Linked DNA regions of Homo sapiens. Each later gene encodes a partner of the first gene's protein in a complex. Each region holds a gene or a part of one and is shown in the gene's direction. Other genes may lie near its edges.

The links.
Region 2: the proteins of H3Y2 (region 1) and TRIM33 are in contact, whole or in part, in a crystal structure (PDB 7ZDD), measured with the Homo sapiens proteins. Residues at the interface, in NP_001358848.1 of Homo sapiens: Ala2 (codon at 4,299), Arg3 (codon at 4,302), Thr4 (codon at 4,305), Lys5 (codon at 4,308), Gln6 (codon at 4,311), Thr7 (codon at 4,314), Ala8 (codon at 4,317), Arg9 (codon at 4,320); in NP_056990.3 of Homo sapiens: Asp884, Pro885, Asn886, Glu887, Asp888, Trp889, Gln894, Asn895, Gly896, Gly897, Asp898, Leu899, Leu900, Cys901, Glu903, Val908, Phe921, Pro922, Ser923, Gly924 (codon at 330), Trp926 (codon at 336).

What each region holds. Positions count from the first base shown.
Region 1 is NC_000005.10:17,490,431-17,496,063, reverse strand, and holds H3Y2 (histone H3.X), read left to right. Parts: upstream 1-3,987; 5' UTR 3,988-4,295; coding exon 4,296-4,739; 3' UTR 4,740-5,097; downstream 5,098-5,633. UniProt on the Homo sapiens protein: Primate-specific variant histone H3, which constitutes a core component of nucleosomes. Nucleosomes wrap and compact DNA into chromatin, limiting DNA accessibility to the cellular machineries which require DNA as a template.
Region 2 is NC_000001.11:114,396,089-114,403,211, reverse strand, and holds part of TRIM33 (E3 ubiquitin-protein ligase TRIM33), read left to right. Parts: intron 1-328; coding exon 329-452; intron 453-1,748; coding exon 1,749-1,823; intron 1,824-3,602; coding exon 3,603-3,755; intron 3,756-5,221; coding exon 5,222-5,272; intron 5,273-5,351; coding exon 5,352-5,564; 3' UTR 5,565-7,123. UniProt on the Homo sapiens protein: Acts as an E3 ubiquitin-protein ligase. Promotes SMAD4 ubiquitination, nuclear exclusion and degradation via the ubiquitin proteasome pathway. According to PubMed:16751102, does not promote a decrease in the level of endogenous SMAD4.

The sequences.
Region 1 (5,633 bases):
AAACGTATAGGTGCCAAATAGACAGTGTCTCCTGCAATTGATCAAACAGTAGATGGGATCCACACTTTAACTTTTTCTATATGCAGCTCCGTGTTTCACAGACTGCTCCTGCTGGTTTGCTATGAACAAACATTGATCTCTACTTTCTAAAATGTGAAAATACTCTTTATCCACAGTCGCTTCACATTACGGGAGGCAGAAAAACCAGTGTAGGTCTGTTTGTGGGTGGAAAAGGGAGAGAGGCAGCCTTTAGAAGTCCGATGCAGTCCATCACCAGCAGTTCAGTGTCCTAGAACGTGGTCATGGCCGTAGCCATGGCTGGAATGACCCAGGTCTTGGTCTGGGAGCTGGTAGGAGAGGCACTGGAGATGTGTGAGATGTGGGGAGACACGCACCTGCTGCAGCCCAAGCCTTTCACAGGGGACAGCCCAGGGCCCATTACCCCAACATCGAGAAAAAAAAAAAAAACCCCATCTTCCTCCAGATCCCAGCCCAGATAGAAAGGCCTGATTTTAGAGGAGAAAGTACTGCTTCTAGTCTTTCTATGAGAGCACACTTTCTATGCTGGAGCTTCAGTATCTCAGCCCATCCTGGACTTACCCGTGATTTAACATCTTTCTTACATCTTACATTGGTTACACCCAGATGAAGGCAGCAGCCTGTTTGATCATCCCTTTCAATCATATTTGTATCTCAGACCGTGCACAGTGGCTTATTCCTGTTATCCCAGCATTTTGGGTGGCCGACCTGGCAAATCACTTGAACTAGAGTTCCAGACTGCCTCTCTTTAAAAAAAAAAAAAAAAAAAAATTAGCTGGGCGTGGTCACTAGTTCCTGCTGTTTCACCTACTCATTCTGGAGTGTGTGGTAGGAGAATTGCTTGCGCTTCAGAGGTGGAGGTTGCAGTAAGCAGAGATGGCGCCACTGCCCTCACACCTGGCCAACAGAGTGAGACCCTGTCTCAAAATTAGTAACAATCATCACCATCATATTTGGAGCTCTGAGGTCCACGCATGCTCAGGCATTGTTCTGGTGCTTCCTGGTTGAGAGAAGAATGGTGCATTAGCCTCGAGAATCCTGTGAATGGGGAGCTGTTTTTACAAAGAGAAAAGAAACTCTTTTCAGAGACTGTGATGAAATCACACTGAATTCTGAAGTTGCTATGACTTAGGATGTTTTTGCTCCTATATGATTTGTAGGAGATACAACAGAGTCGTCCCTTATAATACTTTTTCCTGAAGGCCCTGGCTTTCTAAAAGCATTGGAATAGTTCCCCTTATAAACATTTATACTTTTCATAACTTTGCCCAGGGAATCAACAGTTTTGAACTTGCAAAAATAAAAATTAAATTAAATACCAGATTTTCCTCTACAATGATTTTTTTCACGTTCTGGCCCAAATTGCTTCATGTCAGAGAGCAATCTTTGAGGATGTTAGAATGGTAACACACTCTAGGAGCCATATGGAAATCTAGACAGAGAAACGCAGACCAAAGAAACCCTGTCTAACTTCTGCATTCATTTCCACACCTTCACCTCCAAAGAACTGGTCCCAAGGTAACCTTTGTTTATGACTGAAATAACATACTGATCTCTGTTTTGTCCTTCTCTAAAATGGAAATGCATATAATAATAATATATTTTATTTTAGATAATATTCCATTTTTACTTTATTTTTCAAATGATTAAGAAATACAGAAATTAAAAACAAAATTTGCTCTCTCTGTAGGATTTGAACATTAAATATTTTGTATAACTGAACCCTATTTGTCATTATATGAACAAGTAATTGATCATATATCTTGAATATAAGATAAACTGTAACAAATGTATAGCAACAATAAAATGGAGTTCCAGTTTTCAGGATGGCCCATAAAAAAAGATTCCATGTCATTACTCTGTCTTAACAATCAGTAAAAAGCTGAAAAAGCAAAAAAATCTATATCTCTTTGACATCTGTCTGAGTGGTGCTGTCATAGGGCAAACCATAGAGAAAATAAAAAAATCCATGCCTTCCTTGCTTCAAAGTATTCTATCAAGCTGTAGGAACAAAAATGGCATAAGAATGGCATCAAAACAGAAATCAAAGCCAATGGAACAGAGCAGAGAGCCCAGAAATCCCTCCAAATGTGTACAGCCAATTACATTTTTACAAACGTGCCAACAACACACAATGACAAAAGGACAGTCTCTTCCATCAGTGGTGATAGGAAACTGGGTATCTACAGGCAGGAAAATGAAATTGGGCCCTAATCTCTTGCCATACACAAGAATCAACCAAAATATAGTCAAAACTTTAAACTATGAGCCTACTAGAAGAAAACAGGGGACATCCTCATTGACATTGGTTAAGCCAATAATTTTTGAAATATGTCCCAAACACATGGGCAGCAAAAGGGAAAATAGACAAATGGATTGCATCCAAATGAAAAAAAAATTCTGCACAGTAAAAGAAATAATTAACACCATGAAGAGACAAAATCATCGTGAGAAAAAATACTTGCAAACACTATATCCAATAAGGCATTAATTAGTTACTGTTCAAAATATACCATGAACTCAAAGGACTCAACAGCAAGAAACAACACAATTTTAAAACTGGGCAAAGGACCTAAATAATAGACATCTCAGGAGAGAAGATATACAAGTGGCCAGCAGGCATGTATATATATATATATGCTCCATGTCACCAATCTTCAGAGAAATGCATATAAAAACTAAAAGAAGGCATCACCTCACACTCTTTAGAATGGCTGCAATCAAAACATCAAAGGACAACACTTGTTGAGGATGTGGAGGAAAGCGAACCCTTGTATTATTCCTGGGAATGTAAATTAGGGAGCCATTCTAGAAAACAGTATGGAACTTCCTCCAAAAACTACATAAATACAGCTACCATATGATCCAGCAATCCCACACTGGGAAGTGTATATGAAAAGGAAATGAAATCAGTCTATTGAAGAGATATCTATACTCCCCTGTTCATTGCAGTGCTATTTACAAGACCTAAGATAGGGAATCCACCTAAATGTCAAAAAGCAGATAACAGGATGAGGAAAATCCGATATACATACACAAGGGAATACTATGCAGCCTTAAAGAAGGAAATCTTGTCCTTTGTGTACACATGGGTGCACTTGGAGAACATCATGCTAAGTGAAATAAGCCAGGCATAAGAATACAAACACTACATGGTCTCCATGATACCTGGAATCTCACAAAGTTAATCTGATAGACGCAAAAATATAAGAAAGATGGTCGTCTGGGGCTGTGGTGGCTGGGGATGGGGAATTTGAGGAGATGTTGGTCAAAACACACAACACGTCAGTTACATGGGGGAACAAGCTCAAGAATTATTGTACAACGTGGTGACTATAGTTAACAATATACTGTTACTGGTACCAAGGTTAAAAAAAAAAAAAAAAGAGCCAGAGAGCCTCAGTGACAGGCACATAGGACCATTTGATCAAAAAGCCACAACTTTGCCTGAAGGCTACCGCAGATTCCCATGAATGTCACTTTGGGGGAGAAAAATGCCCCCAGGAGCATCCCTGTTAGAGGAGTGATCATTTAGGTTTTCCATATTTCCCTCCCCGTTTCACCTCATCCTCAGGGAACCTGAGAGACACCTCATGATCGCACCCTTGGTGTTTTGCAGCAGTCACCGATGTCGGGTAACATACAACTTTATTCAAATGTCTTTTTCATTGTAATGACTTCCATGATGGTCGTGAAATGTAAACTTTCAGAATCTCCTTGGCACCCAGAATTTTTTCTAACTCACACCTACCATCCCTCCCACGATGCACACGGCAGAGGTTCCTCCCTCTCTGGGGTGTGTGCAGAACCCAGGGACTCAAATTGGGTTTTCACAGCGCTGACGAGGTTGAGAGTCTAGTGAAGCAGTGAGTACAATGGAAGGGAGCTGGGTGAGTCTAATGCAATCATCTGAGCTCCTTATAAGAGGCAGGGCTTTACTGAGACCACAGAGATCTCCAGTCAGAAACAGACTGCCTGCGAGGGAGACTCCTGGCTGCTGCTGGGTAGACCAAGGAAACCCAAGACCTTCCGGGAAGACTAAGCAGCCCGGCCTCCGACCCACAGACCTGAGAGCTGGTAAGTGTGGGGTTGGGTTGGCAGGGGTTAAGTGTGTGGGAGAGTCCTGCGCATGGATCTCAACTCACAGGCTCTCTGAATCCTGTCCACAGCACCACTGCCCTTGTTTTCTGACGCCAGTACTGCCTGCAGCAGGCCAGGCTCAGCCTCAGAGAGGAGAGAGCACAAGGCCCCACAACATGGCGCGCACCAAGCAGACCGCCCGCAAAGCCACCGCCTGGCAGGCCCCCAGGAAGCCCCTGGCCACCAAAGCCGCCAGAAAAAGGGCGTCGCCTACAGGAGGGATCAAGAAGCCTCACCGCTACAAGCCTGGCACCCTGGCGCTGCGGGAAATCAGAAAGTACCAGAAGTCCACGCAGCTGCTCCTGCGCAAGCTGCCCTTCCAGCGTCTGGTGCGTGAGATCGCCCAGGCCATCAGCCCGGACCTGCGCTTCCAGAGCGCGGCCATTGGCGCCCTGCAGGAGGCCAGCGAGGCCTACCTGGTGCAACTCTTTGAAGACACCAACCTGTGTGCCATCCATGCCAGGCGCGTCACAATTATGCCCCGAGACATGCAGCTGGCCCGCCGCCTCCGTGGAGAGGGTGCCGGAGAGCCCACGCTCCTGGGAAACCTTGCACTCTAGAGGACTTCTTTTCTGTTTGCTTGTGTTTTCTTTTTTCTCTTCCCCCGTAACTGGTAGTTCTGATGTGAGAAGTTTTGTTCTGTTTTGGTTTCTTTTCCCTCCGGGGGTCCAAAGGTAGCTAAGCATAAGATTGCCAGTGGAAACGCAGGCAGAAATCAGGTGGCAGTTGTGTTTGTGTGTGCTTGTTAGTAAACGTCTCATCTACTTTGAGGCTCCCAAGGTACTAGTGTCAAGTGGAAATGTCTCTGTGAGCGAGTTTCAGTTCAACTCTATAAAATTATAAAGAAATCTTATTTTTTTTTCTTTACTATGTCTGCATACGGGTTCTGTAAACAAAATAAATTTCTTATTAATCTGAGCTAAAAGATGTTTATTGCATTTTATGAAACAATAGATTCCAGGTATACTTGGAGGTTTTATGTATGCAACTCTGTGTTTTCAATGTTCCCTGTCTCCTGTGATGTTTCCGCTAGTTTCCTATGAAAATACATTAAACTTCATTTTCTACAATTTAAATAGATTCTCTATTTACAAGTCAATGCACACTATGAAAGGCAGTGTGGGTAAAATCCAGTGTGGTATATCTGTGTGTTGAAGGGAGTCAGAGGCACCCATTGGGCGTCTGATGCAGTCCATCCCTGGTGGTCTAAATTCCGGAATGTGGTCAATGTCATGGCTGGAATGGTCAAGGCCTTGGACACAAAGGTTGTAGAAGAGGCTCTGGACATGTGTGAGATTTGAAAAAGAGATGCCCCTGAGAAAGCCTGCCTGCACATTCAAGTTTAAGAGCCACATTTTTATCAAGTACCAAAAAATTATGTGATTTCCAGCCCAAGACTAGAAAAGTAATCCTGTTCCTGAGGGAATAAGTACCGGCTCCATCTTCCCATGACA
Region 2 (7,123 bases), on another chromosome or scaffold:
CCACATAATGGTGATACTGGGATCTGAGAGAATTGGTCTTAGGCCTTATGCTGCAAGTACTGCTCATCACTACTAAGAGACCCCCTTTTAATGCGGAGGTGCCATTTTTATAATGCATTCCAGAAAGTAATCAATTGATGCGTGACTAGGAAAATTTAGAGGAGTTTTTAATCACATGACTTCACCTGACGAGATTTCACAACTATAAAACCTCCCTTTTTTCAAAAAATTATTAAGAAAATAAACCAGGCCCCAGTCCAGGGAAGTAGCTTCTCTAGAGCAGGCTTTCTTATAATTACGTGGACTAATTGCCTATTTCCCTGTCTAGTGGGGACTGGATATGCACATTTTGTAGAGATATTGGAAAGCCAGAAGTTGAATATGATTGTGATAATTTGCAACATAGTAAGAAGGGGAAAACTGCGCAGGGGTTAAGCCCCGTGGACCAAAGGGTAAGTGTCAAATAAGTTGATTTGTCACTGGGATTCAGTAGTTGTCTGCCTATATATACACCTTTTTTTTTCCTGTGTAGCATACACAAAACCTGATAACATTTAATTTTTAATCCTGTCATCTGATGGTATATTGATGATTTCTGAAGTCTTTTTTTCCTCTAACCCTGAACTACAGACCCTTCTATCCAGATTCCTCAAACTTAACATGTCCCAACTAAAATCTTAATTTCTAATCCTCTCCCTCCAAGCACAAAACCAAGCAAATAACGACATAAAAAACTGTATTCCTCCCCCAGTATTCCCCTTAATTGAATGATACCACCATTCATTTCTGTTGCTCAGGTTAGAAACCTATTAGAAATGAAATAATAATAACTATAATATGATTTTCTTACCTTACATCATAATTTCTCATCTGGACTATTGTAGTGATCTCTTAACTGCTCTCCCCGCTTCTGCTCTTGACCTTTATAGTTTGTTTTCTGTATTAAACAGTGTTCTTTTTAAAAAAGTAAACAAGTCTATCATTTCCTTGCTTAAAATCCTCTAATAGCTTCTCATCATATTAAAAATGGAAACTCTCTCCTTACTTTACTCAGATTTTTACCAATCTGGCCTGTAGTCTGATTGCCAAAGACAGACTCTTTTGCATTGTCGTGTGGTCATTAGAGTTAAGTTTGGCTCTACTCTGGTGTATATACTGGTAAAAACCCTCATCCACTATCTGTGAAGACAAGATACGTGTTTAGGGTATACAAACTTGTATTAAAAGAAGTTTAGATAAATAGAAGACTGTGAATGTAAAATGCATTTCAGTTTACTCATGATTGGGTAAAAAAATATTTTTGGAGTTAGACTGAGAAGGCCATTTTCATTTTGAACCTGACTGGAATCATTTGAAGAAAGGGGATGATAACTTTCAACATTTGTCTTGCCTGTCTAAGGAATTACCATGAGGAGCAACAGTGATAATTTATTTACTTATTTATTTATTACCAAGTAATTTATAAATTTTTGCACAAAGTGTTAGATGTTGCTTTTGTGACTCCCTTCCATAAATTACCTTAGTTATCTTCCATTCTTACTTAAAGTAGAACAAAAGATAGTCTGAAAACAAAATGAGAAGCAAGGGAATTTTCTTTGGGTGTTTATGTTTAGTTGAGTATCTAGTAAACAGGGGGCTTGTGTTCAGTTTGTTGTAATCAAACTTTGTTGTGATATAGTTCTCATTCTCGAGAATGTTTTATTAGGAGAAAAATATTTCATGTGCTTTCCTTTCCTTGTTTGGGCCAGAAATGTGAACGTCTTCTGCTTTACCTCTATTGCCATGAATTAAGTATTGAATTCCAGGAGCCTGTTCCTGCTTCGGTGAGTTGCCTACCTTAGTAGCTCGGTGGGGAAGTCTCATAATACTTAAGAGTATGGGCTCTGGCGGCCGGGCGCGGTGGCTCACGCCTGTAATCCCAGCACTTTGGGAGGCCGAGGCAGGCGGATCACGAGGTCAGGAAATAGAGACCACGGTGAAACCCCGTGTCTACTAAAAATACAAAAAACTAGCCGGGCACGGTGGCGGGCACCTGTAGTCCCAGCTACTCCGGAGGCTGAGGCAGGAGAATGGCATGAACCCGGGAGGCGGAGCTTGCAGTGAGCCGAGATCGCGCCACTGCACTCCAGCCTGGGCGACAGAGCGAGACTCCGTCTCAAAAAAAAAAAGAAAAAAAAAAAAAAGAGTATGGCCTTAGACTAAGTTGTATTACACCTCAGCCTTCTGGAATAAGCTCTTCAACCTCTCTAAGACTCAAGTTTTCTGACACGATTTTTTACCTCATTGGGTTGTTCTGAGGATTATATAAAATAACCTATGTAAAATATTTAGCATAGTCTATAGTCATTGAGTTTTGTAAGGAATAAAGGCTCTAAAATGCTGCAATAAAAGGAAGATTAGAGGTGTTTGGTGCCTAATAAGTGGGGTAAGAATATTCTACACACATTTTATTGCTAGCCATCAGTTGTTGAATAGTACATTATTACATACCAGGCCTGTTAGAGAATATTAAATGGTAGTTGACTTGTTTACTGGGTAGCCTGAGAAATGAATTTTAAATCACAAAAGGTATAGACAGAAGGAAGATGTTTTGTACAAGCAGTAATCATCTGTTTCTGGAAAATTTGTCTCATCTTTAAGTGCAGGGATTTTAAAGTAGAAAATGACTTTCAAATGTTTTCTTTTTATGGACTATTAAAGTAGCTTCTTGGCCGGGCATGGTGGCTCATGCCTGTAATCCCATCATTTTGGGAGGCCTGGCAGGCAGATCACTTGAGTTCAGGAGTTCAAGACCAGCCTGGCCAACATGGTGAAACCCCCTCTCTACTGAAAATATAAAAATTAGCCGGGCGTGGTAGTGCATGCCTGTAATCCCAACTGCTAGGGAGGCTGAGGCAGGATAATTGCCAGGGGATGGAGGTGGCAATGAGCCACAGTTGGCGCCACTGCACCACTGCACTCCAGCCTGGGCGACAGAGCAAGACTCCATCTCAAAAATCAATTAGTCAATCAGTCAATAAAATAGCTTCTCTAACTTTACTTTTATCCCAAGGGTAGAAATTTTTCGCCAGAGTTGGGGTCAGAATTCCCTAGCGTGAACACTAAATGGTTAATAAAGTTAGTAAATTTTTCTTATGTTCTTAGTCTTACTTCCTCTGTTACTAAGTCAAGACTTCGTGATGTAAATGATATTCCCTGTTATGTTTTCCAAAAGACATCATATTCTAATTGTAACATTAATATATTTTGTAAATTTTTTTCTTTAAAAAAAAAAGAAAAACTCCTAAGGAGTCATAAAATTCTGGTAAGTCAAATGTTGCCTCAAGGCTACTGGTTGGTTACCCTTGCTAATTGCTTTCTTTCCAAATCTTATTATTAAAAGTAGGACTTTGGGGACTTGGACTAACCATGAAGATTGGCACATATGCCACATAAGATTTGGTTTTCATGAAGATGTAAAGTACATACGTCTATACTCAAAATTTGCAAGCAGCTGGCTCTATAATAATTTTTTTCCCTAAAATTAATATGCTATGCATTTTCAAATTAAACAGTTTGGCATTTTTGGAGAATTCTTATTTGCCATTATGTGCTTATTTTAGATACCAAACTACTATAAAATTATAAAGAAACCAATGGATTTATCCACCGTGAAAAAGAAGCTTCAGAAAAAACATTCCCAACACTACCAAATCCCGGATGACTTTGTGGCCGATGTCCGTTTGATCTTCAAGAACTGTGAAAGGTTTAATGAAGTATGTTAACTTCCAACCTATAGAGTCTTGATTTGTTAGTTTTTGTTTGTTTCCTTGTTTTATTTTTCTGCTGACTTTAATTTTATTAAAATTTTTTTTTCTGCTAAAGTCCTGTCAAAAGTAACATCTGATTGTATTAACAGCTCCAGTGAAGAAAATTTATTGTGTATAATTTGGAGTATATACTTAAATATAATAAATTAAGAATATTATCAAATATCCTTTTCTAAATGAGTTGAGGATTGGCATAAGTATGGAAAGTACTGTCAGTAGTTACGTATATTTTGTGGAATATGATTATAAACAGCTTACGTTTTGGGTACTATTAGGAAAGTTATCTGTACCCATGTCCTTGCATTTTATTATTGACAACATGAATGTAGAACCTTAAAATAACAAACTAATCTCTGGTGACCCATCTTGAATAGTAGCCCAGAGTATATAATACTAAGTTTTCTTATTTCAGCAGTGTGACTTTGATTAATTTTGGTTATGTTTTTTGGTTTGGGGAGTTTTTTGTTTTTTGTTTTGTTTTGTTTTGTTTTTTTTTTTTTTTTTGAGGGTAAGTTTGAGTTAGCCATGCCTTGAGAAGAAATGTATTATATACCTGTTTCAGGGAAATTGTTTTTATTAGGGATAAAATCGATTCTATTATTGTTATGGAAGAGTTTCATTGTAGGAGAAGAAAATGGAATTTAATGAGAATCCACAAAATCTTTTAAAAGATTAATACTAAAGTCTCTTTATTGCTGGTGTAATTTGGGTGCCATATGATTATTACTAAAATAAATCACATTGGATCCTGTAACGTATTCCTATAGCTGCCTCTGGAAGCATCCAGATGGCATTTTAAAATCAAAAACAAAACAAAATCCTCATAAGGTGAAAATTCTAAGTCACCTTTATAGCAGTATGGCACAGAGTATATTAGTAAAATCTCACTAGTTTGAAGTTATATTTAGTCCCAAATTCTGTCTTATTTTTCAGTGCAGTTAAATTATTTTCAAATAAATATGCTTTCATGAACTATAGTTGATAAGAAGACCCATGTTTCCTGCCTCAGTAATAAATAGTTTATGATTAACATATTGCTATACAGATAGAATTTTTATTAAGTGGTTTGTTGAAAGTTTGTCAGTTTTTTAAAGCAACGTTTCTTGTATAATATGCTTCACAAATATTTTTCTCTTGGATAGATTGATGTGTTCAGACCAATTCCTATTCAGATTGACCTTGATAATTCAAAATAAGACAATTACTGAGGTTTCACAGTAGCTTTAGTAACAGGGCTTTGTAAAGAAAATGGTTCCATGTTCTGTAGAATTTTAGAAAAGCACTTTATCTGGTTATAGCAATTTGTTCTCCCTAGTATGGCTGACTTTTCGTCGCCAATCCTATGCAGTCTCATAACTTTAGAAAGGATTATAATTTCCCTTTTTTTTTTTTGACTCTGGTATCCTTTTTAGATGATGAAAGTTGTTCAAGTTTATGCAGACACACAAGAGATTAATTTGAAGGTAAGCTTTTCAGACCATGCAAACTTGGTGAAGGAATATGCATTACCAATAGGTGAATATTCCTATCTTTTGCTTGCAGGCTGATTCAGAAGTAGCTCAGGCAGGGAAAGCAGTTGCATTGTACTTTGAAGATAAACTCACAGAGATCTACTCAGACAGGACCTTCGCACCTTTGCCAGAGTTTGAGCAGGAAGAGGATGATGGTGAGGTAACTGAGGACTCTGATGAAGACTTTATACAGCCCCGCAGAAAACGCCTAAAGTCAGATGAGAGACCAGTACATATAAAGTAAAATGACATGGATTTAAATCAATTGTTTAAAAAAAAAAAAACGAAAAAAAAAAAAAAAACACAAAAAACCCAGAAAACTTTTAAGTGTTGCTGGAATATCCTGCCTACAGTGGGCACCTCCTTGAAGAAGCTGATAGCTTTTACACAGTATTAGATTGAAATAATGGACAGAAACACATTCTTGTCAAGAAAGGGGGAGAGAAGTCTGTTTGCAAGTTTCAAAGCAAAAAGCAAAAGTGAAATGATTTGAGGATTTCTGTTCTAATGGAGATGATTCTCTGATTGTTAGAAATGGCAAATATTGATGATTGTGTGCTATTGATTGGTGCAGGATACTTGGTATACGAGTAAATACTTGAGACTCGTGTCACTTGATAAATTTTCTTTTTGGACTAGGTCGCACAGTTATTAAAACAACTTTTAACCCTCCCCCTTCACACACATACATATCAGGTTGTTTTCTAGTTAAAAACCCAAGTAGCTCAGATTCTACTTTAATGTCAGTGCAGATTTGCATTGAATCATGCCATTATGTTTTTTCTCATTTTTATGCTGTTGGGTCTTAGTTTTTAAATTGATATAAAGAACTCAGCAATGGTTTTATTTTCTACTCATACTTAGGGTTTAGGAAACACTACCACTAGTTATCATTTAATCAACTTCAATGGTCTACTGAAACAAAAATGGTAACTTTTCATTAGTGGATTATTTAGAGTTATAGTAGTTGTTTCCAGAAAACACTTCCTCACAATTGTACTTCCCAATCAAATCATGTGATCATACAGTTATTCCCATGAAAGGCAGAATGTTTGTTTCAAAATTAATCTAGTTTTCTGTACATTTAAATTTGAGAAGGTGACAACTGGCTCTTTTCCAGTCTTCCTTCATGTCAGTTTTCTGATAGACCACTATTGGCAAACAGTATCTGTCAACTACCAAATGTGTAAAATTTTCTGTATTTCACTTTGTCTTATTTGTAAATAGTGAACTAAAACTTTTGGCAGATCAGCAACATTTGCTGAGCCTGTTTTTTAAGCTAATGTGTATTCTTACTAATGTTCCTATCAAGAATGGATTTGTAATATATGCTGTCTATTTCTAATGTTCACATTCATATTTTGAGGTTCTATCTTATTTTAATAGAGAACAGACTTCTCAAAAAATCTTCAGAAGCAGCTTATTATTGAAATATCGAAATATTGAAATAAACCCGGTGGGGTTAGATTACTCATCTGTCCACCAAGTGGGACATTTGCATGGACTGGGGGCTTAAAGGACTTAGAAGAGACCTGTAAGTAAATCCTGAAAATGAGCCAATCCCCACTTGAATGGTTACTGGAGTAAACCCACCTTTACCACCCCAATTACAGCACCCGAGGCCGATAAACCAACTTGGCTCTGGTTCATTTTTCTTTTCTTCATTTGTGATGCTCAGATTCAAAATGTGTGTTCTACACTGTTACAGGCTTCTCTTTTGTTTGATTAAAGATTTTAGTCCTACTTTTGTATGGACACATTAGAATATTCAGAGACCAAAATAGAAGAATTTGCTGTTAGATA